Homo sapiens: one gene and its partner. The protein of the gene in region 1 interacts with the protein of each later gene in a pairwise test. Each region holds a gene or a part of one and is shown on either strand. Other genes may lie near its edges. The genes, in order: ZHX3 and COL26A1.

What was found.
Region 2: the proteins of ZHX3 (region 1) and COL26A1 interact in binary tests that used the Homo sapiens proteins (3 or more experiments, as listed by UniProt).

What each region holds. Positions count from the first base shown.
Region 1 is NC_000020.11:41,197,701-41,213,709, reverse strand, and holds part of ZHX3 (zinc fingers and homeoboxes protein 3), read left to right. Parts: intron 1-8,643; 5' UTR 8,644-8,793; coding exon 8,794-11,653; intron 11,654-12,325; coding exon of another isoform or gene 12,326-12,375; exon of another isoform or gene 12,376-12,424; intron 12,425-16,009. UniProt on the Homo sapiens protein: Acts as a transcriptional repressor. Involved in the early stages of mesenchymal stem cell (MSC) osteogenic differentiation. Is a regulator of podocyte gene expression during primary glomerula disease. Binds to promoter DNA.
Region 2 is NC_000007.14:101,365,461-101,381,469, forward strand, and holds part of COL26A1 (collagen alpha-1(XXVI) chain isoform 1 precursor), read left to right. Parts: intron 1-16,009.

The DNA of each region.
Region 1 (16,009 bases):
TATACCTTTTCCTCAGTGAATCCCAGTCCCCATTACAAATAGCAGTTCTGGCCCTGTGCCTGGAGTGCTTGTGTTGTGTTGCTAGGGCTCTGCAGTTAGCTTCTCCTGAGTTCTGCTGCCTGGCCTTCTGGTGTGCTCATGCTCTTTTTCCTTTGTGTTGTTGCTACTTCCAGGTAGTAGGTCTGCATCTCTCTTCCCTCTCCTCTGGCAAACCTGATGTTCACAGGCACTGCCATTCAGCTTCTCTAGGGCCACAGTAAATATTACCAAGGTGAGTCAGGAAGTAGCACAGAACTGTGTCACCTATATTGAAACCTTAGAAATGTAAATGCTGACCCTCTTCTATAGAACTGAGTGCTATAATTTACTGTCCTCTACCTTTCTTGGTTTCGATGTCCTTCCTGAGGTTTTTATCATATTCAGAGTTGTGCAGCCATCCCCACTATCTAATTTCAGAACAATTTTCATTGCCTGGTGACTCATTAGCAGCCACTCCCCCTTCTCCCCTACTCTCAGTCCCTGGCAACCACTAATCTACTATCTGCCTCTATGGATTTGCCTTTTCTGGATATTTCATATAAATGGGAATCATACAGTATGTGACATTTGTGTCTGACTTCTTTCACTTAGCATCAGGATCATCCATGTTGCAGCATGCATCAGAACTTCATTCCTTTTCATGGCTGAAGAATTCATCGTATGGATATATCATATTTTACTTACCCATTCACCAGCTGATAGATGTTTGGGTTGTTTCCACCTTTTGGCCATTATTTGAATAATGCTGCTGTGAACATTTGTGTACATATTTTGGGGTGGACATGTTTTTATTTATACTGTGTATATACTTAGGAATTAAATTGCTGGTGTTTTGTTTTTTTTGTTTTGTTTTGTTTTTGGTTTTTTTTTTTTGAGACACAGTTTAGCTCTTGTTGCCCAGGCTGGAGTACAATGGCATGATCTTGGCTCACTGCAACCTCCGCCTCCCAGGTTCAAGCAATTCTCCTGCCTCAGCCTCCTGAGTAGCTGGGATTACAGTCATGCACCAACATGCCTGGCTAATTTAGCATTTTTAGTAGAGATGGGGTTTCTCCATGTTGGTCAGGCTGATCTTGAACTCCTGACCTCTGGTGATCCGCCCGCCTTGGCCTCCCAAAGTGCTAGGATTACAGGTGTGAGCCACTGCGCCCGGCCAAATTGCTGGATCTTATGGCAACTCTATATTTAACATTTTGTTTGCCAAACAGTTTTCCAAAGTGGCTATACCATTTTACATTTTCATCAGCAATACGTGAGGGCTCCAGTTTCTCTGCATCCTCATCTATACTTGTTATCTGTCGCTGTAATTACAGCCATCTTGGTGGGTGTGAAGTGGTATCTCATTGTGGTTTTGATTTGTGTTTTCCTAATAACTAATGATGTTGAGCAGTTTTTTATGTGCTTTACTGGCCATTTGTATATCTTCTTTGGAGAAGTGTCTATTCAAATCCTTTACCCGTTTAAAAATTATCTTTCTATGGTTGAGTTGTAAGTTATTTATATAATCTGGATATACTTTACCAGATAGATGATTTGCAAACCTTTTCTTTCTGTGGATTGTCTATCTTTTCACTTTCTTGATGGTGACCTTTGAAGAATGCAAGTTTTTAATTTTGATGACATCCAATTTATCTGTTTTTTCTTTTGTCGTTTGTGCTTTCAGATATTCTACTTGATGTCTTCCATAACTTGTCTGAAAATCTGATTTGCTCACTGGGTCCATAACTGTATTATTTTTAGTTTCCCTGATTTGGGATCATAAAGCACTTGATTTAAAATGTTTGCCAATGATATATACAAAGGAGCTTAGAAATGTTGATGCTCTTTGAGATGGTAAGCCCATTCCTGTGCACTTAACCTCAGGAAATAATTTGATAGAAGAAAAACATCCTGTATGCCCAGAGATGTTTGTTTCACTGTCACCCATGAGATTGGCATGCTTTTCAACAGCAGGGGTGGATAAGTCAAATTCATTGTGGTACATTATTAGGTAGCTATTAAATGTTAAACTTATGAAGCTTGTGTAACAAAAAGGTTTATAACGTAATGTTTGGTGAAAAAAGCACAAATGTGTGCTCATTGTGATAAAAATATGAATAAAATATCTGGACTAAATGAGAAGGTATACCAAATTATAGACATTAAATTTATTTAAATTACATTTTATCTTTATAATTAAAAATTAAGTAAAAAAGTGTGCATGCCAGTTCAAATTGGTGGGGGAAGGGGTGAGAAGTTGTTAGAGTGGGTTTATGTTTACCCTCACCTTCAAAGTTTTAAAAATTATTTTCATCATAAAATAGCCGTGTTTATTTACTGAGAATTTGAATAGAGATATTTTAATTTTCTTTACATCTTTGTATCAAATCCAAATACTGATAACTTGATTTTAGTATTAGAATTACTATTGTTTTAGTCATTAGAGCATTATGATTTGCTAAAACGAAAAGTAATAATGATGATTATCATTCTATATTAGTAATAGGGCTCACAGAATCCCTTTTCTCATGGCATCCTGTGAAACAATTATTATTATTATTTCTTTTTGAGTTATCAACTGTTTAATTTCGGTCTTTTATATATAAAACCATTGGTTTTGTTTTCAGGTTAGTTTTCTGCCTTAGCTGTTTTCTTTCTTAGCATTTTAAAAGTGTGAAGTCAATCTATTTTATTAAAAGTTCAATACATCTAAATTCACAGGTAAGGGATGTTATGTAATGTCTGGATAGTGTAATGATTATTTGTTTCTGGTTTCCTCTTCTTTCTTCTTTCCTTTCTTTTAAAAAAATACTTAAAAGCATATGTGAAGATTACTTATAATTCTTTTTTAAATTATACTTTAAGTTTTAGGGTACATGTGCACAACATGCAGGTTTGTTACATAGGTATACATGTGCCATGTTGGTGTGCTGCACTCGTTAACTTGTCATTTACATTAGGTATATCTCCTAATGCTGTCCCTCTCCCCACCCCACGACAGGCCGTGGTGTGTGATGTTCCCCACCCTGTGTCCAAGTATTCTCATTGTTCAGTTCCCACCTATGAGTGAGAACATGTGGTGTTTGGTTTTCTGTCCTTGTGATAGTTTGCTCAGAATGATGGTTTCTAGCTTCATCCATGTCCCTACAAAGGACATGAACTCATCATTTTTTATGGCTGCATAGTATTCCATGGTGTATATGTGCCACATTTTCTTAATCCAGTCTATCATTGATGGACATTTGGGTTGGTTCCAAGTCTTTGCTATTGTGAATAGTGCCGCAATAAACATACGTGTGCATGTGTCTTTATAGCAGCATGATTTATAATCCTTTGGGTATATGCCCAGTAATGGGATGGCTGGGTCAAATGGTATTTCTAGTTCTAGATCCTTGACGAATGGCCACACTGTCTTCCACAATGGTTGAACTAGTTTACAGTCCCACCAACAGTGTAAAAGTGTTCCTATTTCTCCACATCCTCTCCAGCACCTGTTGTTTCCTGACATTTTAATGGTCGCCATTCTAACTGGTGTGAGATGGTATCTCATTGTGATTTTGATTTGCATTTCTCTGATGGCCAGTGATGATGAGCATTTTTTCATGTGTCTTTTGGCTGCATAAATGTCTTCTTTTGAGAAGTGTCTGTTCATATCCTTTGTGCACTTGTTGATGGGGTTCTTTGATGTTTTTCTTGTAAATTTGTTTAAGTGCTTTGTAGATTCTGGATATTAGCCCTTTGTCAGATGGGTAGATTGCAAAAATTTTCTCCCATTCTGTAGGTTGCCTGTTCACTCTGATGGTGGTTTCTTTCGCTTTGCAGAAGCTCTTTAGTTTAATTAGATCCCATTTGTCAATTTTGTCTTTTGTTGCCATTGCTTTTGGTGTTTTAGACATGAAGTCCTTGCCCATGCCTATGTCCTGAATGGTATTGCCTAGGTTTTCTCCTAGGGTTTTTATGGTTTTAGGTCTAACATTTAAGTCTTTAATCCATCTCGAATTAATTTTTGTATAAGGTGTAAGGAAGGGATCCAGTTTCAGCTTTCTGCATATGGCTAGCCAGTTTTCCCAGCACCATTTATTAAATAGGGAATCCTTTCCCCATTTCTTGTTTTTGTCAAGTTTGTCAAAGATCACATGGTTGTAGATGTGTGGTATTATTTCCGAGGGCTCTGTTCTGTTCCATTGGTCTACATCTCTGTTTTGGTACCAGTACCATGCTGTTTTGGTTACTGTAGCCTTGTAGTATAGTATAGTTTGAAGTCAAGTAGCATGATGCCTCCAAGTTTGTTCTTTTGACTTAGGATAGTCTTGGCAATGTGGGCTCTTTTTTTGTTCCATATGACCTTTAAAGTAGTTTTTTCCAATTCTGTGAAGAAAGTCATTGGTAGCTTGATGGGGATGGCATTGAATCTATAAATTACCTTGGGCAGTATGGCCATTTTCACAATATTGATTCTTCCTATCCATGAGCATGGAATGTTCTTCCATTTGTTTGTGTCCTCTTATTTCGTTGAGCACTGGTTTGTAGTTCTCCTTGAAGAGGTCCTTCACATCCCTTGTAAGTTGGATTCCTAGGTATTTTATTCTCTTTGAAGCAATCGTGAATGGGAGTTCACTCATGATTTGGCTCTCTGTTTGTCTGTTATTGGTGTATTGGAATGCTTGTGATTTTTGCACATTGATTTTGTATCCTGAGACTTTGCTGAAGTTGCTTATCAGCTTAAGGAGATTTTAGGCTGAGACGATGGGGTTTTCTAAATATACAATCATGTCATCTGCAAACAGGGACAATTTGACTTGCTCTTTTCCTAATCGAATAACCTTTATTTCTTTCTCCTGCCTGATTGCCCTGGCCAGAACTTCCAACACTATGTTAATAGGAGTGGTGAGAGAGGGCATCCCTGTCTTGTGCCAGTTTTCAAAGGGAATGCTTCCAGTTTTTGCCCATTCAGTATGATATTGGCTGTGGGTTTGTCATAAATAGCTCTTATTATTTTGAGATACGTCCCATCAATACCTAATTTATTGAGAGTTTTTAGCATGAAGGGCTGTTGAATTTTGTCAAAGGCCTTTTCTGCATCTATTGAGATAATCATGTGGTTTTTGTCTTTGGTTCTGTTTATATGATGGATTACATTTATTGATTTGCATATGTTGAACCAGCCTTGCATCCCAGGTATGAAGCCAACTTGGTCGTGGTAGATAAGCTTTTTGATGTGCTGCTGGATTCGATTTGCCAGTATTTTATTGAGGATTTTTGCATCGATGTTCATCAGGGATATTGGTCTAAAATTCTCTTTTTTTGTTGTGTCTCTGCCAGGCTTTGGTATCAGGACGATGTTGGCCTCATAAAATGAATTAGGGAGGATTCCCTCTTTTTCTGTGGATTGGAATAGTTTCAGAAGGAATAGTACCAGCTCCTCTTTGTACCTGTGGTAGATTCAGCTGTGGATCTGTCTGGTCCTGGACTTCTTTTGGTTGGTAGGCTATTGATTATTGCCTTAATTTCAGAACCTGTTATTGGTGTATTCAGGGATTCAACTTCTTCCTGGTTTAGTCTTGGGAGGGTGTATGTGTCCAGGAATTTATCCATTTCTTCTAGATTTTCTAGTTTATTTGCGTAGAGGTATTTATAGTATTCTCTAATGGTAGTTTGTATTTCTATGGGATCGGTGGTGATATCCCCTTTATTGTTTGTTATTGTGTCTATTTGATTCTTCTCTCTTTTCTTCTTTATTAGTCTTGCTAGCTGTCTATCAATTTTGATGTTTTCAAAAAACCAGCTCCTGGATTCATTGATTTTTTGAAGGGTTTTTTGTGTCTCTATCTCCTTCAGTTCTGCTCTGATCTTAGTTATTTCTTGCCTTCTGCTAGCTTTTGAATGTGTTTGTTCTTGCTTCTCTAGTTCTTTTAATTGTGATGTTAGGGTGTCAATTTTAGATATTTCCTGCTTTCTCTTGTGGGCATTTAGTGCTATAAATTTCCCTCTACACACTGCTTTAAATGTGTCCCAGAGATTCTGGTATGTTGTGTCTTTGTTCTCATTGGTTTCAAAGAACATCTTTCTTTGTGCCTTCATTTCGTTATGTACCCAGTAGTCATTCAGGAGCAGGATGTTCAGTTTCCATGTAGTTGAGCGGTTTTGAGTGAGTTTCTTAATCCTGAGTTCTAGTTTGATTGCACTGTGGTCTGAGAGACAGTTTATTATAATTTCTGTTCTTTTACATTTGCTGAGGAGTGCTTTACTTCCAACTATGTGGTCAATTTTGGAGTAAGTGTGCTGTGGTGCTGAGACAAATGTATATTCTGTTCATTTGGGGTGGAGAGTTCTGTAGATGTCAGTTAGGTCTGCTTGGTGCATTTAGCCCATTTACATTTAAGGTTAATATTGTTATGTGTGAATTTGATCCTGTCATTATGATGTTAGCTGGTTATTTTGCTCGTTAGTTGATGCAGTTTCTTTCTAGCATTGATGGTCTTTACAATTTGGCATGTTTTTTGCAGTGGCTGGTACCAGTTGTTCCTTTCCATGTTTAGTGCTTCCTTCAGGAGCTCTTGTAAGGCAGGCCTGGTGGTGACAAAATCTCTCAGCATTTGTTTGTCTGTAAAGGATTTTATTTCTCCTTCACTTATGAAGCTTAGTTTGGCTGGATATGAAATTCTGGATTGAAAGTTCTTTTCTTTAAGAATGTTGAATATCGGCCCCCACTTCTCTTCTGGCTTGTAGAGTTTCTGCCGAGAGATCCGCTGTTATTCTGATGGGCTTCCCTTTGTGGGTAACCCGACCTTTCTCTCTGGCTGCCCTTAACATTTTTTCCTTCATTTCAACTTTGGTGAATCTGACAATTAATGTGTTTTGGAGTTGCTCTTCTCGAGGAGTATCTTTATGTTGTTCTCTGTATTTCTGAATTTTAATGTTGGCCTGCCTTGCTAGGTTGGGGAAGTTCTCCTGGATAATATCCTGAAGAGTGTTTTCCAACTTGGTTCCATTCTCCCTGTCATTTTCAGGTACACCAATCAGACGTAGATTTGTTCTTTTCACATAGTCCCATATTTCTTGGAGGCTTTGTTCGTTTCTTTTTTCTCTTTTCTCTCTAAACTTCTCGCTTCATTTCATTAATTTGATCTTCAATCACTGATACTCTTTCTTCCACTTGATCAAATCGGCTACTGAAGCTTGTGCATGCGTCATGTAGTTCTCATGCCATGGTTTTCAGCTCTATCAGGTCATTTAAGGTCTTCTCTACACTGTTCATTCTAGTTAGCTATTCATCTAATCTTTTTTCAAGGTTTTTAGCTTCTTTGTGATGGCTTCGAGCATCCTCCTTTAGCTCAGAGAAGTTTGTTATTACTGATCGTCTGAAGCCCTCTTCTCTCAACTCATCAAAGCCATTCTCCATCCAGCTTTATTCCATTGCAGGTGAGGAGCTGCGTTCCTTTGGAGGAGAAGAGGCACTCTGATTTTTAGAATTTTCAGCTTTTCTGCTCTGGTTTCTCCCCATCTTTGTGGTTTTATCTACCTTTGGTCTTTGATGATGGTGGCGTCCAGATGGGGTTTTGGTGTGGATGTCCTTTCTGTTTGTTAGTTTTCCTTCTAACAGTCAGGACCCTCAGATGCAGGTCTGTTGGAGTTTTCTGGAGGTCCACTCCAGACCCTGTTTGCCTGGGTATCACCAATGGAGGCTGCAGAACAGCAAATACTGCAGAACGGCAGATGTTGCTGTCTGATCCTCCCTCTGGAAGCTTCATCTCAGAGGGGCACCCAGCTGTATGAGGTGTCAGTCGGCCCCTACTGGGAGGTGCCTCCCAGTTAGGCTACTCAGGGGTCAGGGACCCACTTGGGGAGGCAGTCCAACTGTTCTCAGATCTCAAGGTGAGACCACCCTTTGAGTGGTCGTACACAGAAAATGTATAGCTTGCTGGGCCACAAACTGGTTCTGTGGATTCCCTGACCCTCTGACCTTTGGTTTCATCTCAGTAACAGTGGTCCGGGATACATAACAGCCAGTAACTGTAAGGTGATCGCTTTTCTGTGGCCTGGAATAAGTGCGGCAGGCAAGGAAAGGCTACAGAGGCCTGGCTCTTACAGCAGCCGGTCTTCCTAGCCACCCCCGCCCACCCCACCCCTTCCGTTCACACACTGCAGCTAACTTGGTCCCTGGGCCTGGCTTGGGACAGACAGAGGCGTCATCTTGTTCTCATATGCGGGAAGGCTATGAAAAGAAAACCGCGTGTTGGTCCAAAATGTAAACAAGAATTACACTAGGATCTTTTGTTCTCACTCTGACATGGTCAGAATTAATTTGGAGGTCCAAAAAGAGGGCGTTTTGTTTTTTAATCTGAATTACTTAATGCAGGGATATGTAGGGGGTGGTGGGGAAGAAACAAAAATACGTTGCTTAAGTCTATCAGTTGGTATTGGACCATCCCCAGGTCATTCTTCAGGGTCCAGTTTTTGTCATTAGGGGGTTCCTAACTTAGACTTCATATCCAAGTTGCTGATTAAACTTACTGTGAAAAGACCTAGATGGTAGAAGGCAAGCAGTGGAATGTGTCTGGGTATCCGAGAAATATACAGAAAGCACTTAAGAGAACTTAATCATTTTTTTCTCCCTTTCCTTAGATTGAATAGGGAAAACCTGCTTTCTGCAAACAACTGAAAAAGCTGCATTTAGAAACTGTTTCTTTGGCCCTCATCGAGAAGCTGGAACTTGTATTGTTAGGCCCCTTATGGGACAAGCTCTCAACTGCTGATCACCCAGTGATTGTCACCATGGCCAGCAAGAGGAAATCCACCACACCATGCATGATCCCAGTGAAGACTGTGGTGTTGCAAGATGCCAGCATGGAGGCCCAGCCCGCTGAGACCTTGCCTGAAGGACCCCAGCAGGATCTGCCCCCAGAAGCATCTGCTGCCAGCAGTGAGGCAGCACAGAACCCCAGCAGTACTGATGGCTCTACACTGGCCAATGGGCATCGGAGCACTTTAGATGGCTATTTATATTCCTGTAAATACTGCGATTTCAGATCCCATGACATGACCCAATTTGTGGGACATATGAACTCAGAGCACACAGACTTTAATAAAGACCCAACCTTTGTATGCAGTGGGTGCAGTTTTCTGGCAAAAACCCCTGAGGGGCTTTCCTTGCACAATGCCACATGTCACTCCGGGGAAGCCAGCTTTGTGTGGAACGTGGCCAAGCCAGACAATCATGTGGTTGTGGAGCAGAGCATCCCTGAGAGCACCAGCACTCCTGACCTAGCGGGTGAGCCCAGTGCTGAAGGGGCTGATGGACAGGCAGAAATCATCATTACCAAAACTCCAATCATGAAGATAATGAAAGGCAAAGCTGAAGCCAAAAAAATTCATACACTCAAGGAGAATGTCCCTAGCCAGCCTGTGGGTGAGGCCTTACCAAAGCTGTCGACTGGAGAAATGGAGGTGAGAGAGGGGGACCATTCCTTCATCAATGGGGCAGTTCCAGTCAGCCAGGCATCTGCCAGCTCTGCAAAAAACCCCCATGCCGCCAACGGGCCCCTGATAGGAACAGTGCCAGTTTTGCCAGCTGGCATAGCACAGTTCCTCTCCCTCCAGCAGCAGCCCCCAGTGCATGCCCAACACCATGTCCACCAGCCACTGCCCACGGCCAAGGCCCTTCCCAAAGTGATGATCCCCCTGAGCAGCATTCCAACGTACAATGCAGCCATGGACTCTAACAGCTTCCTGAAGAACTCCTTCCACAAGTTCCCCTACCCCACCAAAGCCGAGCTCTGCTATTTGACTGTGGTGACCAAGTATCCAGAAGAACAGCTCAAGATCTGGTTCACAGCCCAAAGGCTGAAGCAGGGGATCAGCTGGTCCCCTGAGGAGATTGAGGATGCCCGGAAAAAGATGTTCAATACAGTCATCCAGTCTGTGCCTCAGCCCACAATTACGGTTCTAAATACCCCACTCGTCGCCAGTGCTGGCAATGTCCAGCATCTCATCCAGGCCGCTCTTCCAGGTCACGTTGTGGGGCAGCCAGAGGGTACAGGAGGGGGACTTCTGGTCACTCAGCCATTGATGGCCAATGGGTTGCAAGCAACAAGTTCCCCTCTCCCCCTCACGGTGACATCCGTCCCCAAGCAGCCAGGTGTGGCACCCATTAACACTGTGTGTTCAAATACAACGTCAGCTGTGAAGGTGGTCAATGCGGCCCAGTCGCTCCTCACGGCCTGCCCCAGCATAACCTCCCAAGCCTTCCTTGATGCTAGCATCTACAAAAATAAGAAATCTCATGAACAGCTGTCAGCTCTGAAAGGGAGCTTCTGTCGGAACCAGTTCCCAGGGCAGAGCGAAGTTGAACATCTCACAAAAGTGACGGGCCTCAGTACCAGAGAGGTGCGGAAATGGTTCAGTGATCGTAGATACCACTGCCGGAACTTGAAGGGCTCCAGAGCGATGATACCTGGAGATCACAGTTCCATCATCATTGACTCTGTGCCAGAGGTGTCCTTCTCCCCATCGTCCAAGGTCCCTGAGGTAACCTGCATTCCGACAACAGCCACACTAGCAACCCACCCTTCTGCCAAACGACAATCTTGGCACCAGACTCCTGACTTCACACCAACCAAATACAAGGAGAGAGCCCCTGAGCAGCTCAGAGCCCTGGAGAGCAGTTTTGCACAAAACCCTCTTCCTCTTGATGAGGAACTGGACCGCCTGAGAAGTGAAACCAAAATGACCCGACGAGAAATTGATAGCTGGTTTTCAGAGAGACGGAAAAAAGTGAATGCTGAGGAGACCAAGAAGGCTGAGGAGAATGCCTCTCAGGAGGAAGAGGAGGCTGCTGAGGATGAGGGTGGAGAAGAGGATTTGGCCAGTGAGCTAAGGGTCTCTGGTGAAAATGGCTCTCTGGAAATGCCCAGCAGCCATATCTTGGCAGAGCGCAAAGTCAGCCCCATTAAAATCAACCTGAAGAACCTGAGGGTCACTGAAGCCAATGGCAGGAACGAGATTCCAGGGCTGGGTGCCTGTGACCCTGAGGATGATGAGTCAAACAAACTGGCAGAGCAGCTCCCAGGCAAAGTGAGCTGCAAAAAGACTGCCCAGCAGCGGCACTTGCTGCGGCAGCTCTTTGTCCAGACACAGTGGCCAAGCAACCAGGACTATGACTCCATCATGGCCCAGACGGGTCTGCCACGGCCAGAGGTGGTGCGCTGGTTTGGAGATAGCAGGTACGCACTGAAGAACGGCCAACTCAAATGGTACGAAGACTATAAGCGAGGCAACTTCCCACCAGGGCTACTGGTCATTGCCCCTGGCAACCGGGAGCTCCTGCAGGACTATTACATGACACACAAGATGCTGTATGAAGAGGACCTGCAGAACCTCTGTGACAAGACCCAGATGAGCTCCCAGCAGGTCAAGCAGTGGTTTGCTGAGAAAATGGGGGAGGAGACCAGAGCCGTGGCAGACACAGGCAGTGAGGACCAGGGCCCTGGTACTGGTGAGCTCACAGCAGTTCACAAAGGGATGGGTGACACCTATTCAGAGGTGTCTGAGAACAGTGAGTCGTGGGAGCCCCGTGTCCCTGAGGCCAGCTCAGAGCCCTTTGACACATCGAGTCCCCAGGCTGGACGTCAGCTCGGTAAGGAGTCCACAGGGGCCATGGCTATCCTGTGTGGGTAAGGGGAGGAGGCACTTATGGTTGGGCACTGAATTTACTGCACAGGGGCATCTGCTGTCTCTAAGGCTGCCTGGCAGCAGCATTAACCGCCTGGCTGCTTCAGAGGACAACTAGCAGCAGAAGCCATAGGAATATAATATGATAAACGGTTGAGAGCTGTTTTTTGTTTCATGTGTTTTTAAAAACCTGCGCAGGGGAAGGAACATGGTGACCCTAAAGGGGTCCAAGCTTTTCTAGCCATTTCTTAGCAATAGGAGAACAGGTCAAAACATCCTCTGAGTCGGGCAGATCCACAGCCACTGGGTAGGAGACAGCAACAGGACATGAGTTGAAATTCAGCTCAAATTGATGAAAAGGAAAGAGAGCCTTTAATTGTCCTTAGATACATAATGTGCTTTTTTCTGATGATGAAAGTCTTGTGTTTCTCTGGTTATGCCTGATGTAGAAGAAATGTTTAGTATAATGGAAAATCACCTTCCTTCTTTGACATACATGGAATCAAAAGCTTGAATTTTGTTCCTCAGTTTCTCTGGATTGTACTCGAAAGCAAAATGTATCATAGAAGATTATTTTTATTTAAGACATAGTTTTGAAGCCACAGACAAGTCATGTTATTACGTGTTGATTTTCTAGGTTCCTGGTCACTGAGTTCCCAGCCTCTCCCTTCCCTCCTTACCCTTTGACATTTGTGTTCTCATTAGAGACCCCATCAGAGGGCAGCCAGAAGCTCAGGTGAGAGCCAGGAGGGCGGAGTATTGTAGAAGCTGAAGGGATTGGGGGTTCCAAAATGGCAGCATTGCTAGCTGAGTTGGCAATGTGGGAGGGGGTACAGGAGACACTATTTGTGGTGTTGGGCAATGTGATGGTTCCGTGGTGACTTTGGCATGAGCTGCCTCAGTGTGGGGCCTTGTGTTTGGTACCTCATCCCCAGGGCCAACCATAGTGGCCTATCCCTCAGAAATCCCACAGAATTTCCTGGATGGTGTTGCATTGTTTCCATACAATAGCCAACCATTGTTGTTTGTTTATTTTGGCCTGGCAAATCCCAGCTCCTCCACCCCAGTTGCTTTCTACTTAGGATGTCTTAAAAAGGACAAAATTCTTTTTCTTTCTCTGAATATTTTAAATTCATTTGAACACAACAGTTTGAAACATAGTTATGCTATTGTTTCTTTACTGAATTAAGGAAAAAGAGACTTCCTTTTTGGCCCATAATTTGGTGGGTTGGGGGCGGGGAGTACCATGTCATCCATCTGTTTAGCATTTGCAGAAAGCCTGTTCTTCTCATATTAACATACTAAGGCAAAATCCAGTTCCACAAAGCCCACAGTGAGAGCAAACACCTGGTGGAGCCCAAAGCCCTGGTCAGCACTTAGGGTAGGAGTACAAGGGCCACTGGCTCCCTTACAGCCTCCTCCAACTCCAGCCATGTTTTCAATACGGCAACAACAAAACACTCCCCTCCTTTGGGGCCCACAGCTCACAGCCTGCTTTATAAAGTAGCTGATGGCACACCCTGGAGTCAGAACAACAGGTTTTTATGGCTAGTTTAACTTTTTTATAATGCAGAGCAGGTAGTCTCTCCTACAAGTCTTTGTCCAAGTTTGTAAGTTGGTCCTTATATTATACCCAGCTCTGTGCTTCTTGTAATATACCAGTAGGCCAGGGTGTCATGCTCAAGAGAGATGAGGATGTTTGAACAAGTTGATTACGAAAGCTGACATGGAGAATGATGTTATGGAAGATGGCAGTAGCAGCACCAGGAATCTTTTCCTCCACCAAAGCAGTTGAGCTGGCAGTAATTGTCTCAAGCAACTGTTTTGGGACTCAGAAGTCTAGTTGAACACTTGCAACATCCAGGGAAGAGCTTGATGGAGAGGCTTACAAATTTTGATGGTTTTTTTTTGTTTCAGCATCCGCAAGCTCTGCAGCAGGCAACTGTGGAAAATGTTCCTGGTGCAGACTGTTGGTGCCAGGGTAGGCAATAACAACTTTGTCCTCCAAAAGTCAAGTTTTTGTGGCCAGGTGTGGTGGCTCACACCTGTAATCCCAGCACTTTGGGAGGCTGAGGTGTGGATCACTTGAGGTCAGGAGTTTGAGGCCAGCCTGGCCAACATGGTAAAACCCTGTCTCTATTAAAAATACAAAAATTAGCCAGGCATGTTGGTGAGTGCCTGTAATCCCAGCTATTTGGGAGGCTGAGGCAGGAGAATCACTTGAACCTGGGAGGCAGAAGTTGCAGTGAGCCAAGATGACACCACTGCGTTCCAGCCTGGGCAACAGAGTGAGGCTCCATTGCAAAAAAAAAAAAAAAAGAGTTTTTTGATTTCTGATTACTGCATTTAATCACTGAGGGGGCCAGTGCAGAGGCTGATCATTGTCTCAATGCCCTTGGGCAGAGGGAGCTTTCTAGCCACAAGGGGATTTAAAGAGACAGTACCTATTTTTTTTTTTCTTTATTCCTCCTTTTGGCAAGCCAGATATTTAAGGAAATCTTAGGTCACTGGTTAACCACAGAGATATCACAACAGAAACTTCACTGACCCCATACTGCAAAGAATACACACTTCACAAAAATAGTTGGAAAAGTCACAAATAGTTGGCTCCAGCCCTCAATAAGCAAAAATCAGCAATCTCTGAGGCATGACAGAATTAGATTCTCAGTTACCACAATGTAATACTCATAATGTCCAGTTCTCAACAAAAAATTACAAAACATAAAAAGAAATAGAAAACCATGGTCCATTCACAGGAAAAAAAATTGACAGGCACCATCCTTGAGGAAGTCCAGACATTGGAATTATTACCCAAAGACATTAAATCAACTATCTTAAGTATGTTCAGCGAGCTAAAGGAAAACATGGACGAAGAACTAAAGGAAATCAGGAAAACCATGCATGAACAAAATGAGAATATCAATAAAGAGATAGAAATTATAAAAAGGAACCAAACAAATTCTAGAGCTAAAAAGTATAATCCCTGAAATGGAAAACCCACTAGAGGGATTCAACAAAGATTTGGGCATGCAAAAGAAGAGAACAGTGAATTTGAAGAGAAAATAATTGAAATTATCCAAAGGAGAAGAAAGAAAAAAAATATTTAGGAAAAAAAACCTGAGAGAGCTGTGAGACATCATCAAGCATACTAATGTACTCATATATTCATATAGTTATTATATTCATTAGTATATTCATACTCATATACTCATATAGGAATCGCAGAAAAAGAAAAGGGACAGAAAGAATATTTAAAGAAATAATGATAGAAAATTTCCCAAATCTGATGAAAGACATGAATCTACACATCCAAAAAGCTCAATAAAATCCAAGCAGGATGAACTCAGATCCACACCAAGACATGTTATATTAGGATTGTCAAAACCTGAAGACAGGATTTTGAAAGCAGCAAGAGAGAAGCAACTCGTCACACAGAATTTTTGACAAGATTAACAGCCGATTCCTCATCAAAAATCTTGGAAGCCCAAAGGCAGTGAGATGACATATCTAAAGTCGTGAAAAAAAGAAAAAAAAAAAACCTCTAAACCAAGATTTCTGTATATGGCAAAACTATTCTTCAAAAATGAAAGAGAAATCCAGACATTTCCAAATAAAATTGAAGGAGATCATTATTAGTAGACATGCCCTACCAGAAATGCTAAAGGGAGTCCTTCATGCTGAAATGAAAGGATACTGAACAGAAACTTGAAGCCATAAGAAAAAATAGGCCAGGTGCCGTGGCTCACACCTGTAATCCCAGCACTTTGGGAGGCCGAGGCGGGTGGATCACGAGGTCAGGAGTTTGAGACCAGCCTGGCCAACATGGTGAAAACCCATCTCTACAAAAAATACAAAACTTAGCTGGGCCTGGTGGTGCTAATCCCAGCTACTTGGGAGGCTGAGGCAGGAGAATCGCTTGAACCTGGGAGGCAGAGCTTGCAGTGAGCCGAGATCGCACCACTGTACTCCAGCCTGGGTGGGGCAGAGCAAGACTCCATCACAAAAAAAAAAAAAAAAAAAAAGAGCACTAGTTAAGATAACTTTAGAGGTAAATATAAGAGCCAGTACTATTGTACTTTTGGTTTATAACTTTTTCTCTTTGTGCTTTATAATTTAAAAGACAAATTCATTAAAAAATTATAAATCTATATTAATGGGCATAGAATGTAAGATGTAATCTGTCTAAATAGTAAAACTAACAAATTAGTGCATTGTAAAAACAGAATCAAAACAGTACATTGTGAACAATCAAATAAATACAAAAGGAGGTAGTAATGGAATTGAGGAATCAAAAACATATAAGACATATTAAAAACAAATA
Region 2 (16,009 bases), on another chromosome or scaffold:
CTGTCTCCCAGGCTGGAGTGCAATGGTGCAATCTTGGCTTACTGCAACCTCTGCCTCCCAAGTTCAAGTGATTCTCCTGCCTCAGCCTCCCAAGTAGCTGGGATTACAGGTGCCCACCACTGCGCCTGGCTAATTTTTGTATTGTTGGCCAATAAAAAATGTAACGTTGGCCAGGCTGGTCTCAAACTCCTGGCCTCAAATGATCTGCCTGCCTCAGCCTCCCGAAGTGCTGGGATCACAGGCATGAGCCACTGTGCTTGGTCCCTAAGAGAACCTACTGGCCGGTACGGGGATTGAATGGATGTTTTGCAAGGAGCGTATATTCATGTAATACTTTTGTAATTAAAAGGTGTGGGAAGGAAAAAAAAAAAGGTGTTTGCAGCCTGAAATACGCCTGCAAAAAAGCAAGAGGTGAGGACCATGAAGAGCGGGAGCGAATGGGGACCTCATTCTGGCATTTGGTGGGTTGGAACTTGGGGACATCTGCAGAAACTTGGAAGGGATCATTTTAGCACAAACAAAAAGAGGCTCAAACAAGTGTGGAATCTTCCAGAACTCTTTCCACCAGGATAAGAACAGGGAGAGGATATAATTAGGTTTAGGGAGGATGTGGATGAATCTGTGGGCAATGGATTCCTAAAAAGGATACCAGAAGGTGTTGGGGAGGCTTGGGGCACATTGATATTCCAGAGTGTGACTGAGTCTCTTTGCCCAGAAAGCCCAGCGTGGGCATTGCAGGCACCTGGTTGTTGCCTGGGTGAGTTACAGGCTGGAGCTGGCTTGGGCGTCACATGTTTCTGTGTCTCATGAGCTATCTATCACAAGTGTCCCTTGTCCTTGAGATCCAAGATGTCCAGAAGCTGAAGGCTTGGGGACAGCAGTGGTCCTTGCAGCCTTGGCCTTCAGTAGTGTGTTTACCGGGGCTTGGCTTCAGTTGACAGGCAATGATGACAGGGCTGTTTCTTGACAAAGAGTGCTTTAATTTCATTGTTACTGCTCCTTGTTAACGTCTGATTTTTTTTTTTTTTTTTTTTTTTTTTTTTTTTTTTTTTTTTTTAAAGACAGGGTCTTGCTCTGTCACCCAGGCAGGAGCGTAATGGTGCAATCATAGCTCACTGCAGCCTCGACCTCCTGGGTTCAAGCAATCCTCCCACCTCAGCCTCCTAAGTAGTTGGGACCATAGGCATGGGCCACCATGGCTGGCTAACTTTTAAATTTTTCATAGAGGTGGGGTCCTGCTATGTTGCCCAGGGTGGTCTTGAACTCCTGGCTTCAAGTAATCCTTCAGCTTTGGCCTCCCGAAGTGTTGGAATTACAGGTGTGAGCCACTGTGCCTGGCCAAAAAGCAGTTTTTAATTGTTAGTTTGTTCAAATCAGGATCTAAATAAGTCTGCTTATTGGTTATTCTGTCTTTTCTCTCCCTTTTAGTGTAGGAAAGTCTTCCCCCTTTGAGAGAGTACTTTTTCCTCCACGCTGTTGACTTGTTGAAGACCAGTTGTTCTCTGCGATGTCCACGTACTAGATTTAGCTATTTCCTTCCCAGTGGTGTAGTTAACTTGATCTGCAATGTCCACGTACTAGTTTTGACTAATTGCTTCCCAGTGGTGTAATTAATTGGATCCTCTGCCCCCTGTATCTCTTCTATTTTGGAAGTTAGGTTGGAAGGTTTGATTAGATTTATGGTCTCTATTTGGGCTTGCTGGGAGAGACAGAAATTCTTCATAGGTGGTCTAGTCTACCATATTATATCAGGAGATGCTCTGGACTGATGTGTGTGTCCCCACCAAATTCATATGTTGAAGCCCTATCCTCCAATGTGGTGGTATTTGGAGGGGGGACCTTTGGAGGTAACTAGATTTAGATGAAGTTGTGAGGGCTGTGCCCCATTATTTGATTAGGGATGTTATAAGAACAGGAAGAGAGGCCAGGTGCGGTGGCTCATGCCTGTAATCTCAGCACTTTGGGAGGCCCAGGTGGGTGGATCACCTGAGGTCAGGAGTTTGAGACCAGTCTGGCCAACATGGTGAAAACCCGTGTCTACTAAAAATACAAAAATTAGCCGGGCGTGGTGGTGCACACCGGTAGTCCCAGCTACTTGGGAGGCTGAGGCACTAAAATCGCTTAAGCCCGGGAGGCGGAGGGTACAATGAGCTGAGATCATGCCACTGCACTCCAGCCTGGGCAACAGAGTGAGACTCTGTCTCAAAAAAGAAAAAAAAAAAAAAAAAGAAGAAGAGAAATCAGAGCTCTCTCTCTTTGCCATGTGAGGACACAGCACAGCAAGAAGGTGGCTGTCTGCAAACCAGAAAGAGAACCCTCACCAGGAACTGAATCTGCCAGCACCTTGATCTTAGACTTCCCAGCCTCCAGGGCTATGAGAAATAAATGTCTGCTACTTAAGCCATTCAGTCTGTGGTATTCTGTTACGGCAACCTTGAGCTGACTAACAGAAGGATGTGGCTTTATTCTGGAAAGCTGGGTGTTAAATATTCAGCAGAACACCACTGTCTACAAGTCTCCTCCACTGTCTCCCTTCTTTTTGTTGCAATTTATTTGTTGAAGAAACTTGGCCTTCTAGATTGTTCCTTTTTCAGGATTTTGTTGGTTATATGCTCATGGTGCCTGTGAACATGTTCATCTGTCCTCTTTATTTCCAGATAATGGGAAATTAGATCAAGAGCTTGGTTGGATCTAGTTCTTCCTCCTCCTTCGTTTTCTATTTTGGCAGAATTACATCTTGGGTGCTGTAGTGTTTTTCCATTGGAAATCACAACGTCTGGTTGTCTCTCTTTTTCTCTCGTGATGCTTGAGGTGTTGGTGATCATTGCGTATGTCATTCTTTCATTAAGGATCGCAAAGTGGATGCAAGACAGGCAGGCCCCCAAATTGGGGCTTAGCCAGGAGGGTTCTTGGCTTCACCCAGGAAAGAATTCAAGGGTGAGTGGGTGGTTTCAGACAGCAACTTTAATTGATGTGGCAGTGTACAGCTGCAGCAGAGGTCCTGCTCCTTGCAGAGCAGGGATACCCCATAGGCAGTGTGCCCAGACTAGCAGCTCAGAGGCAGTTTGGCACTATTTATACTTACTTTTAACTATATGCAAATTAAGGGGCAGTTTATGCAGGAATTTCTAGGATGAAGGTGGTAACTTCTAGGTTGTTGGGTTGTTGCCATGGAAAGGCATGGTAACTTCCGGGTGTTGCCCTGGCAAATGGTAACTGACATGGTGCCCTGGTGAGTGAGTCTTATGGGGATGTGCTTCGTCCTAACCTGTTTTAGCTAGTCCTCAATTTGGTCCGGTGTCAACCCCAACCTCCAGAGTCAAGTCCCGCCTCCTACTTCAAAGTAGTACTATAATTTTGACTCTTTTTAAAATTCGTAATTGCTAGAATACTTATAATTTCCCCCTTATTTACTATTTGTAGGTAGAAAAAACTCACTCAAAATCTGGCTCTTTCCAAAAAAAAAAATTCTTTTTGCAAATGTAAGCAATTTGTGTGTGTATGTGTGTGTGTGAGCGTAACAGTGTGTATGAGTATGTGTGTGTTTGTGTCTGTATCCTCCTCCTTTTCTTACACAGAGGTAATATGCTAGTTACTCTGTCTTCAACTTGGCCTTTTTCCATCATAACGTGTTGTGGAGATGGCTCTATCAAAAAGCAAAGATGGGGGGGCATGATGACTCACGCCTGTCATCCCAGCACTTTGGGAGGCCAAGGTGGGTGGATCGCTTGAGGTCAGGAGTTCGAGACCAGCCTGGCCAACATGGTGAAACCCCTTCTCTACTAAGAATACAAAAATTAGCTGGGCATGGTGGCGCATGCCTGTAATCCCAGCTACTTAGGAGGCTGAGGCAGGAGAATTGCTTGAACCCAGGAGGTGGAGGTTGCAGTGAGCTGAGATCACGTCACTGCACTCCAGCCTGGGTGACAGAGCAAGACTCAGTCTTAAATAAATAAATAAATAAAGCAAAGGTAATCTGCATCTTTTTTTTTTTTTTTTTTTTTTTGAGACAGAGTCTCGCTCTGTCGCCCAGGCTGGAGTGCAGTGGCGCAATCTCGGCTCACTGCAAGCTCTGCCTCCCGGGTTCAGGCCATTCTCCTGCCTCAGCCTTCTGAGTAGCTGGGACTATAATCACCCGCCACCACACCCGGCTAATATTTTTGTATTTTTTTTTAGTAGAGTTCTGCATCCATTTTTATGGGTCTGTTGTTCTGTACAGTGTGAGTGACTGTATTTATTCAGCTAGTCCTCTACTGATAGACACTTGTGTTGGTAAATGGCAAACACATGTTTAATTCTGCTAGATAGCGTCAAGTTTCCCTCCACTGGGGTTACAGCATTTTGCATTCCCATCAGCAGTTTCTTCTTGGGGTACATTTTGAAGAGTCCATTTTATTTTATTTTATTTATTTGTTTTTTGAGATGGAGTTTCGCTCTTGTTGCCCATGCTGGAGTGCAATGGCATGATCTCGGCTCACCGCAACTTCCGCCTCCCAGGTTCAAGCGATTCTCCTGCTTCAGCCTCCGTAGTAGCTGGGATTACAGGCATGTGCCATCATGCCTGGCTAATTTTGTATTTTTTGTAGAGATGGGTTTCTCCATGTTGGTCAGGCTGGTCTCAAACTCCCGACTTCAGGTGATCCACCCGCCTCAGCCTCCCAAAGTGCTGGGATTACAGGCATGAACCACCGCGCCTGGCCTGAAGAGGACATTTTAAATGATGCTGGTTGATATGGCCTTTCAGGGGTAAGAATAGACTTCCCTGATCTTATAGCACCTGCAAGTCCTGGCCACCCCTAACCTTTTTGGGGCTTGGGGCAAGACTAAAGATGAAGACCATTCACCATTTGGCTAGATATTTAAAAGTATAAAATCAAGCTGACACACTGTTTGTTTTGTTGTTGTTGTTTGTTTTGTTTTTGTTTTTTGAGACGGAGTCTGGCTCTGTTGCCCAGGCTGGAGTGCAGTGGCACGATCTTAGCTCACTGCAACCTCCGCTTCCCAGGTTGAAGCGATTCTCCTGCCTCAGCCTTCCGACTAGCTGGTATTACAGGCATGCACCACCATGCCTGGCTAATTTTTTGTATTTTTAGAAGAGATGGGGTTTTGTCATGTTGGCCAGGCTGGTCTCGAACTCCTGACCTCAGGTTATCTGCCCACCTCATCCTCCCAAAGTGCTGGGATTACAGGCATGAGCCACTGCACCCTGCCCACCTTTCCTTCATCTATACCTGCTGCTTCAAACTCTCTCTGTCTCTGAATTCACTTTCTTGTGGTTTCGTCTAAGCCAAAGTGCTTGGTGTGTCCCCTCCTCACTCAAAATGCCTCCCTCTTACCTTGACTCCCCCCTCTTTTGGTAGAACCACAAGCACCCTTCCTCCAGGAAGTCTCTCTGGATTTACCTCCCAGCTTTCTGTTCATCTCATTTGTGGGTAGCCCCTGCACCTGTGATTTGTGGGTAGCCCCTGCATCTGTGATTGTGGTTTTGGTTCTAGAACTCACTTCCCCAGTTTCCCTCCTTGCAGATGGAGTCATTTCTCCTTCCTCATTTACTCCCTACAGGAGTGGCTCTGAGCAGCCGTCCTTGGGCAAGCGTGCATGAGCTGGAGCTTAGCCCTGCCCACCACCCACCACTGCCTCTTGGAAATGTGAGCCGCTCCAGGTCAGGCATTTAATCACCTTGCATTCACTGAGCCCACGTGTAGGTAGGGTAGAGGCTGGGGACTCAAACGTGAAGGCAGGGGGCTGTGCCTGGTGGCCTGCATGGAGGAAGAGCTCAGCAGACTCTGGGGAAGTGGATGATCACATCCATGGGGACTTGTCCCTCCGACTGGATTGCATGCCTCTGCAGTGTTGGACCCCTGCCTTTGCTCTCTGGTTCCCTACATTCAAGAATTGGCAACTGTGATTAGCTATGGTGCCTCATGCCTTTAATCCCAGCACTTTGGGAGACCGAGGTGGGAGGATCACTTGAGCCCAGGAGTTTGAGACCAGCTGGGACAACATAGCCAGACCCTGTCTCTGTAAAAAAAAAAAAAATTAAAAAATTAGCTGGGTGTGGTGGTGCACACTTGTAGTCCTGGTGGAAGCTGAGGTAGGAGGATCACTTGAGCCCAGGAGTTTGAGACCAGCCCGGGAAATATAGTCAGACCCTGTCTTTGCAAAAAAAAAACTTTAAAAAATTAGTTGGGCATGGTGGTGCACACTTGTAGTCCCAGGTATTTGGGAGGCTAAGGTGGGAAGAACGCTTGAACCCAGGAAGTTGAAGCTGCAGTGAGCTATGATTACACCACTGCGCTCCAGCCTGGGTGACAGAGTGAGACCCTGTCTCTGGGGCAGTGAGATGTTTCAGACCCAGCCTCCGTCCTTGATGAGCTCAGAGACTGGTTGGGGAAAACAGATCCATGAGCAAGAGTGGAATTTGGTGTGATACAAATGTGTGCAAAGTGAGCTAGGGGAGTTAGGGTTTGTGGGAGCCTGGGAGTCTTTGTGCCTCAGTTTTCTCATCTGTAAAATGGGAATGACTTCAGTACTTCATTAAGTTGTTCTGGGGCTTACATGGGTTAATATTAATAATGTTCTTAGGAAAAAGGATAGTAAACCCTCTGTTCATGAATGTGACCGTGGACTGCATTCATATGCCTTGCAAAGGTTGCAAGGACGGGGGAGTTCCACAAATATATGAAGCCTTGGAATCTTTTTCTGGGGAGCATTTTGTTTTTTGAGACGGAGTCTGGCTGTGTTGCCCAGGCTGGAGTGCAGTGGTGCGATCTTGGCTCACTGCAACCTCCGCCTCCAGGGTTCAAGCGATTGTCCTGCCCCAGCCTCCCAAGTAGCTGGGATTACAGGCGCCCACCAACATGCCAGGCTAAGTTTTGTATTTTTAGTAGAGCTGGGGTTTCTCCACGTTGGCCAGGTCTTGAACTCCTGACGTCAAGTGATCCATCTGCCTTGGCCTCCCAAAGTGCTGGGATTATAGGTGTGAGCCACCGCACCTGGCCTTCTGGGGAGCATTTTGTTAGGATTGTGTTCCTGACCACATACTTAGGGAAATGTTCTAGTGGATAGAGACTAAATGTTGAGGACTTCTCAGAGGAGTCAACATAGGAGGTGGGTTTTGTAGGATGAACAGGAGAGCTTGAGGCAGTGACTGGGGCATTCTGGGCAGACAGACAACTGTGTAAAGGCTTGGAAGTGTCATTAGCTATTGCCTGACATATAGTTAGTGGGACTGAGTTCAGAGTGGCTGGACTAATGGGATGTGGTGGCTCATGCCTGTAATCCCAGCACTTTGGGAGGCCAAGGTGGGAGGATTGCTTGAGCTCAGGAGTTCAAGACCAGCCTGGGCAACACAGCAAGACCCCGTCTCTACCAAAAATAAAAAATTAGCCAGGTGTGGTGGAACACACCTGTAGTCTCAGCTACTCAGGAGACTGAGGTGGGAGGATTGCTTGAGCCCAGGAGTTTGAGGCCGCAGTGAACTATGATCGTGCCACTGCACTCCAATCAGGGTGACAGAGCAAGAGCAGACCATGGGCTTGGGCAGGCAGAGGACAGGCACTGAGCTTTTGGAGTCTGGATGTGAAGTCTCCTTCCTGCCACCTTGAGGAGCTTGCCTTCATAGTCTGGGCTTTGTCACAGTCAGGCTTGTGCCAACTTTGCTGGTCGGGGAGAGGCTGGCAGAGGAAGGATAGTGGAAGGAGGGAGGCCAGTTAGGAGGTAGTTGATGGATGGAGCAGGGGAGAAGGGAGTGCTCAGAGCTAGCAGGACCTGGCCCCTTGGTGGATCACGGATAGGCAGAGACAGGCTACAGGCCTGAGCTCCTGGCTGTCTCCAGTGCCTGGGGGACACCAAGGAGCCTGCTGCTTTGCTTCTCAGAACATTGCAAATTTTTTGCAGCACTTTCTTGGTTTGCAATGGCAGCAAAGCAGAGTTCAAACATCTTGCATTTTTGTGAAATACTTTTATTTTTCCTGCATGGAGTTTTCAACCCCAAATTTCAGCATCTCCTGGACTTGCACGGATCAGGTGCTCAAGGAAAGTTTGTTGAGTGAATGAATGAACACATGAATGAATGAACAAATACCTTGACCTTTCTCCTTTGGGACACCGAGGCAGTGCCTCTGCCTCAGTGCACGTTTGCAGTTCTGAGGGATCCTGGAGCGAGGTCCCTTTCTCTGCACAGGCCAGCTCCTGAAGCTGCTTTTAGGGGAACCATGGAGACTCCAGCTTTAGAGGTCCCGCTTCTCCCTTTGAAGTGTGAGCACATAGAGGAGGGAGACTTTTCCTGAGAATCACACAGAATGGCTTTGATGTTAATATCAGTGAGACCTTGTCCTCAAGCTCCAGGATTTTCTGAATCTTCCCTCTCTTCATCTCACTCCCCTCTTCCCCCAGCTCATCTGTTATTTTAAAATCCATTCCCAGAGAAACAATTCCTATGGCAATAAGAGCACTCCTCCAGGCTTCTCTTGGCTCGAACTCGTGTGACACTTCATTGCCACTTCCAGAGTGTGTGAGCTGGACCCGGACCAATTCAGCCTGGGGCAGGGGAAAAGAGCAACAATAACTAACTGTTAGAGGATTTTCGGGAATGTTAGCACAAAGTGCTCCGGGAATTCTGCAGACAATCCTACGGAAACATACACATGCCGTGCTGTTCTGCCCTCCGAGTTGTCAGGGGTCCCTGGCCTTCCCAGCCTGGCCTTGTCTCTACCTGCCTCCCAGAAACCAGGGTCTAGAGCTTCTCTTCGGAGTCCTGTAACAGACTACCCTGAAACAAGCTGGACTGAGTCCAGGTTAATTCTGAAATACTGGAGGAGAGCGGTGTGCGTTCTGGCCCCCTGCATCTCCTTGTTTGCCCCACCCCTAACTACCTCCAGAGTGATCTATGTAAAGCAGGAGTCCCCAACCCTGAGGTCACAGACAAGTACCGGTTCAAGACCAGTTCAAGGAACCGGGCCGCACAGCAGGAGGTGAGTGATAGGCGAAAAAGCCTGAAGCTTCATCTCTACAGCTGCTGCCCTCGCTCGCATTACTGCCTTAGCTCTGCCTCCTGTCAGACCAGCAGCGGCAGTAGATTTTCATAGGAGCTCCAGCCCTGTTGTAAACTGCACAGGCGAGGGATCTAGGTTATGCACTTTTATGAGAATCTGATGTCTGATGATCTGTCATTGTCTCCCATCACCCCCAGATGGGACCGTCTAGTTGCAGGAAAACAAGCTCAGGGCTCCCATTGATTCTACATGATGGTGAGTAGTAGGATTATTTCATTATATATTACAATGTCATAATAATAGAAATAAAGTGCACAGGCCAGACACGGTGGCTCACGCCTGTAATCCCAACACTTTGGGAGGCCAAGGCGGGCAGATCATCTGAGGTCATGATGGAGTTTGAGACCGGCCTGGCCAACATGGTGAAACCCTGTCTCCAATAAAAATACAAAGAATTAGCCAGGTGTGTTGGCGGGCACCTGTAATTCCAGCTACTTGGGAGGCTGAGGCAGGAGAATCGCTTGACCTGTGAAGCGGAGGTTGCAGTGAGCCGAGATCACACCACTGCACTCCAGCCTGGGTGACAGAGTAAGACTCCATCTTAAAAAAAAATTTTTTTTAAATAAATAAAAAAAAAGAGGAAGGCTGTGAAGAGTAGGATCTGGAACCAGGCTGCCTGAGTCTGAGTCCAGGTTCTGTGTGGCCCTGACTAAGTTGCCTGCCCTCTCTATGCCTCAGTCACCTCATCTATAAAATGGGTATGATTAGAGTGTTTCCTTCATAAGGTCATTCTGGGGCTTATGCAAGTTAATATTAATCAAGCGCTTAGAACAATGTCTAGTATGTGCTCTAGGAGGCCATATGAAAGGATAAAGGCTTCTCTCAGATGGTGTAGTGTGCTGATGGGGACTTGGCAAAGCTTGGGAAGATGATGGATTTCACAAACATAGGAAGCATGGCTGGGCACAGTGGCTCACACCTATAATCCCAGCACTTTGGGAGGCCAAGGCATGAGGATCACTTGAGACCAGGAGTTCGAGACCAGCCCGGGCAACATAGCGAAATCCCCTGTCTACAAAAAAATAAAATAAAAATTAGCCAGGTGTGGTAGGGCACACTTGCAATCTCAGCTACTTGGGAGGGGAGGCTGAGGCAGGAGGATTGCTTGAGCCCAGGAGTGTGAGACCAGCCTGGGCAACATAGCAAGACCCCATATCTACAGAAGAAAGAAAGAAAGAAAAAGAAAATTGGCCAGGCACGGTGGCTCACGCTTGTAATCCCAGCACTTTGGGAGGCTGAGGTGGGCAGATCACGAGGTCAGGAGATCCAGACCATCCTGGCTAACACGGTGAAACCCTGTCTCTACTAAAAATAAAAAAATTGGCTGGGTGTGGTGGCGGGTGCCTGTAGTCCCACCTACTTGGGAGGCTGAGGCAGGAGAATGGCATGAACCCGGGAGGCGGTGCTTGCAGTGAGCCAAGATCGCGCCACTGCACTCCAGCCTGGGCGAAAGAGTGAGACTCCATCTCAAAGAAAAAAAAAAAAAAAAAGAAAATTAGCCAGGCACGGTGATGTGTGATTGTAGTCCCAGCTACTTGGGAGAGGAGGCTGAGGTGGGAGGATCACTTGAGCCCAGAAGCATGAGCCCAGCCTTGGCAATATAGCAAGACCCTGTATCTACAAAAAAAAAAAAAAAAGAATAGAAACTAGCCAGGTGTGGTGTTGAATGCTTATAGTCCCAGCTACCTGGGAGGGGAGGCTGAGGCGGCAGGATCACTTGAGCCGAGGAGGTGGAGGCTATGATTAAGTCACTGCACTCCAGTGTGGGTGACAGAGTGAGACCCTGTCTCAAAAAAAGTCTCAAAAATATCCTCCCCAAAACAAAACAACAAACATATGAGGCCACAGAATCCTTTTCTAGGGTGCCTTTTGCCAGGGTGGTGTCTTTCAGACTGCACACCCTGTGAGATGCTGTTGTGGATGGGGGCTAAATGCTGAGGACTTCCTAGAGGAGTCTCCATTCAAAGCAGGTCTTGTAGGATGAGCAAAATGTCCTGATAGGTTTCCGGTGCTCTCCCAGAGCTGGTCCTAAGCCTGCTCACTGGGGTCGTTTCGGACCTTCTCCTGTAGCTGAGCCCACCCTTGCTGCTGCAGGGGAGCCGGAGAAAACAGAAGCTGTAATCCTGATGGTTTTTCCTTGTCTCTTAGGACCCTGCTCAGGTTTTCAAGACCAGAGTGAGGGGTGTGGGCCTATCTGCACTCCCAGCTGAACCTCAGCCACTTTGGGCGTCAGTGCAGAGGATCATCCCCAGATGTGATTGAGGAGCAGATGGGAGGGATCGGAGGGTGCTCAGATGCCTGTGGTGAGGACTGAGGCTGAGGATTTATTTTCTTTATTTTATTTTCTTTATTTATTTTTTGAGGCAGAGTCTGGCTCTGTCACCCAGACTAGAGTGCAGTGGCGTGATCTTAGCTCACTGCAATCTCTGCCTCCTGGCTTCAAGTGATTCTCCTGCCTCAGTCTCCCGAGTAGCTGTGATTATAGGTACCTGCCACCACACCTGGCTAACTGTTGTATGTTTAGTAGAGATAGAGTTTTACCATGTTTGCCAGGCTGGTCTCAAACTCCTGACCTCAGGTGATCCGCCTGCCTCGGCCTCGCAAAGTGCTGGGATTACAGGCCTGAGCCACTGTGCCTGGCCTTCTTTTCTTTTTTCTTTTTTCCTTTTAAATAGAGATGGGGGTGTCACTATGTTGTCCAGGTCAGTCTCAACCTCCTGGCCTCAAGTGATCCTCCCACCTTGGCATCCCAAAGTGCTGGGATTACAGGCATGAGTCACTGTGCCCGGCTGAGGATTTCTGATGAGCTTCATGTCCCAGACAGTGTGAGAGCAGAAGGGACCTGGGGAGGCCCTAAGGTTGGGGGGAAAGGGCTTTTTCTGCCTTGTCTCATGCAGCCAGCCTGCAGTGACTCACTTTTTTTTTGGAGCCAGGGTCTCACTCTGTTGTTCAGGCTGGAATGCAGTGATGTGATCACATAGCTCACTGCAGCCTTGACTGTCTGGACTCAAGTGATCCTTCCACCTTAGCCTCTCGAGTAGGTGGAACTATAGGCATGCACTACCATGCCTGTATCATTTTGGTATTTTTTGTAAAGACTGGGTCTTGCAACGTTGCCCAAGCTGGTCTTGAACTCCTGGGCTCAAGCGATTCTCCTCCCTCAGCCTCCCAAAGTGCTGGAATTACAGGTAGGAGCTACTATGACCAGCAGTGACTTACTTCTGAAGGACCCACAGTTAAGCCAGCAACTTCCCTTCATTGCTTTAGTCCCTCATCAGTGAACAAAACAAAATAGGTTGGAATCAAATGAGGAAATGTGTTTAGTAGATAGGCTGACTGATCATTGCTGTTCATTTGAATGAGGGCTCCATCTATCCTTTTTTAAATTTTAATTTTTTTACATTTTAGAGACAGGGTCTTGCTCTGTCACCAAGGCTAGAGAGCGGTGGCACAATCACAGGTCACTGCAGCCTCCACCTCTCGGACTCAGGTGATCCTCGTGCTTCAGCCTCCTGAGTAGCTTGGACTACAGGTGTGCACCAGCATGTCTGGCTAATTTATCATTTAAAAATTTTTTGGGGGGCTGGGCCTGGTGGCTCAAACCTGTAATCCCAGCACTTTGGGAGACTGGGGCAGGTGGATCACCTTAGGTAAGGAGTTCGAGACCAGCCTGGTCAACATGTTGAAACCCTGTCTCTACTAAAAATACAAAAATTAGCTGGGTGTGGTGGTGCATGGCTGTAATCCCAGCTACTTGGTATTGGCTCTGTTTCTCCATAGGCTGTGAGGCAGGGATTTAACTTAGTTTTTTACTCAAACCGCCCTCACACTTTTATTGAATAACCCATTCTTCCTTGCTAATTTGAAATGCCACTTTTATCATATACTAAATTTCCCTATATGCATGAAGCAGGAGAATCGCTTGAACCGGGGAGGCAGAGGTTGCAGTGAGCTGAGATTATGCCGTTGCACTCCAGTTTGGGCGACAGAGCAAGACTCCATCTAAAACAAAAAAAATTTTTTTTTGTACAGACAGTGTTTCCCTATGTCACCCAGGCTGGTCTCGAACTCCTGGCTTCAAGCGATCCTCCAGACTTGGGGGCTGGGGACACCAAGACCGGTGGGGGGACAGACATTTGCTCTGCATGTGTGTAAGCTGTTTGCACTCATGACTGAGTGGTGGTTTGCAGCCTAAATATTATCTGTCTTTGTTTGCAAGAATTTGATCTCCCACCCCCTTTCTTGTTCTGGAAATGCAAGGACTCTGCGGCATTTGTCCGAGAATCTCCGACAGTTCCCAGCCCCTTGGAGGATGTCCCCTGCTTGGAGTCTTTATGATCGGCTCAGACTTTTCTTTTCCCCGGGGAGTTGTCCCTGGATCAGGGTTTGTTGCAGGATGTCTGCGGCTGTGCGGCCCCTGGAGGCGACCAGGCCTGCCAAACACTCACTGGAGTCTCACTTGGGCTTCCCCAGCCCCCGTAGTTACGAAGCCTTTGAGAGAAGGTAGCAGTTTCCTTCTGATTTGGCTCCGGCTGTCTGCGCCCCAGCCAGTTGCCTCTGGCTTCTGACATTTTTGTCATTCCTGCTCTTCTGGGAGGGTTTATCTCCCTTCCTGGCCTCCTTTGATTGACTTGGCCACACGGCTGATGCTTGGGCTCCAAGAAGTCTTGGCCTGCCCCGGGCACCCATTTCTGCCGTGATGTGATCCTGGCTGGCTGCAGGATTTGCCAGCCTCTTCCCATCTTTTGTTCTGCGACTGATGACAATTAGACCCTGAAACGCTTCACACAGGGACTCTGAACATGTGTGTCTACCAGGGCAGGAGTGGAGCAGGCAGGTGAGCCTCTGCATCAGGGGCTCGGAGGGAGCCCCGTCCTGGCTCTGCCTGATGGGAGAAGACCTGGCTGTGCTCCTGGTCTCTCTTGGTGCTCTGCTCACCATTGCCTGCCTTTCACCCTCCAGATCCTTCCTGCCTCTCACCCTCCAGATCCTTCCTGCCTCAGGGCCTTTGCACAGATTGTTGCCCCTGCCTTTGTCAGAGGTGCGTGAACCACAGCAGCTACATCATGAATACAGGTTGGGTAAAATGAGGCTGAGGCCTACTGGGCTACTTACCCAGATGGTTATGGCATTCTAAGTCACAGGGCGAGATAGGAGGTCAGCACAAGATCATAAAGACCTTGCTGATAAAACAGGTTGCAGTAAAAAAGCCGGCCAAAACCCACCAAAACCAAGATGGAGATGAGAGTGACCTCTGGTCGTCCTCACTGTTACACTCCCACCAGCGCCATAACAGTTTGCAAATGCCTTGGCAATGTCAGGAAGTTACCTTTTATGGTCTAAAAAGGGAAGGCATGAATAATCCACCCCTTGTTTAGCATATCATCAAGAAATAATCATAAAAATGGGCAACCAGCGGCCCTTAGGGCTGCTCTGTCTATGGAGTAGCCATTCTCTATTCCTTTACTTACTTACTTTCTTTTTTTTCTTTTTGAGACGGAGTCTCACTCTGTTGCCCAGTCAGGAGTGCAGTGGTGCGATCTCGGCTCACTGCAACCTCTGCCTCCCGGGTTTAAGTGATCCTTCTGCCTCAGCATCCCGAGTAGCTGGCACTACAGGTGCCTGCCACCATAGCTGGCTAATTTTTGTATTTTTAGTAGTGATGGGGTTTCACTATATTGGCCAGGCTGGTCTCGAACTCCTGACTTTATGATCCACCTGCCTCAGCCTCCCAAAGTGCTGGGATTACAGGCGTAAGCTACTGCACCCAGCTACATTTTTTTTTTTTTTTTTTTTTGAAACAGAGTCTCTCTCTGTCGCCCAGACTGGAGTGCAGTGGCGCTATCTTGGCTACTGCAACCTCTGCCTTTCAGGTTCAAGCAATTCTCATCCCTCAGCCTCCCAAGTAGCTGGGACTACAGGCACGCACTACCACGCCTGGCTAATTTTTTATATTTTAATAGAGACGAGGGTTTCACCATGTTGCCCAGGTTGGTCTTGAATTCCTGAGCTTAGCCAATCCACCCACCTTAGCCTCCCTCCTTTACCTTCTTAATAAATTTGTTTTTACTTTACTCTATGGACTTGCCCCAAATTCTTTCTCACACAAGATCTCAGAACTGTCTCTTGGGGTCTGGATCAGGACCCCTTTCTGGCCACACCCTGATCAGTCTTTGTGACTTTTGGCCTAGGTAACTCCTGCCCAGACTTTAGAGATCAGCTTAAACATCACATCTTCAGGGACCCTTTACTTGCCCTTCAGGATAATATCAGGTTCCTTTGTTAAAAGCTCTTAGAGCTAGCTCTCTAACTTAGAGGCTTATGACAACAGTGAGTAAATTCCATAACTAACGAATTGATAATTCATGAGTGGTTATCTTCCCAGAGATGGCAAATTCTCCCAGGGCAGTGGTCCTGTCTGGTTTTCTTCTGTAGCTCTAGGTTCTAGGTTGTTCTCTGTCATCCTTGCCTGGATTACAGAGGGTGCTTGGGAAATGACCAACCTCTTTGCAAGCTGTGTTAGATTCGTTTTGCTGCTGTAACAAATTACCACAAATTTAGTGACTTAAAATAATACCAGTTCATTATCTTACAGTTCTTGAGATCAGAAGTCCAAAATAGCTCTCACTGGGCTAAAATCAAGGTATTTACAGGGCTGGTCTTTTTGGAGGCTCTGGGAAAGAACCTATTTCCATGCCTTTTCCAGCTTCTAGAATTTATCAGCATTCCTTGACTTGTACCTCCTTCCTCTATCTCCAAAGGGCATTACTCCAACCTTTCTTTCTGATACCTCCTTTCTCTCTGACTTTGATCTTCCTGCCTCTCTCTTGTATGGACCTTTTAGATTAGGTTGGGCTCATCTGGATACCCCCTCAACTTCAGTATGCTTAATTTAATCATCAAGTCCCTTTAACCATGTGTCTTAGTTCCTTTTGTGCTGCTGGAATAGAAAA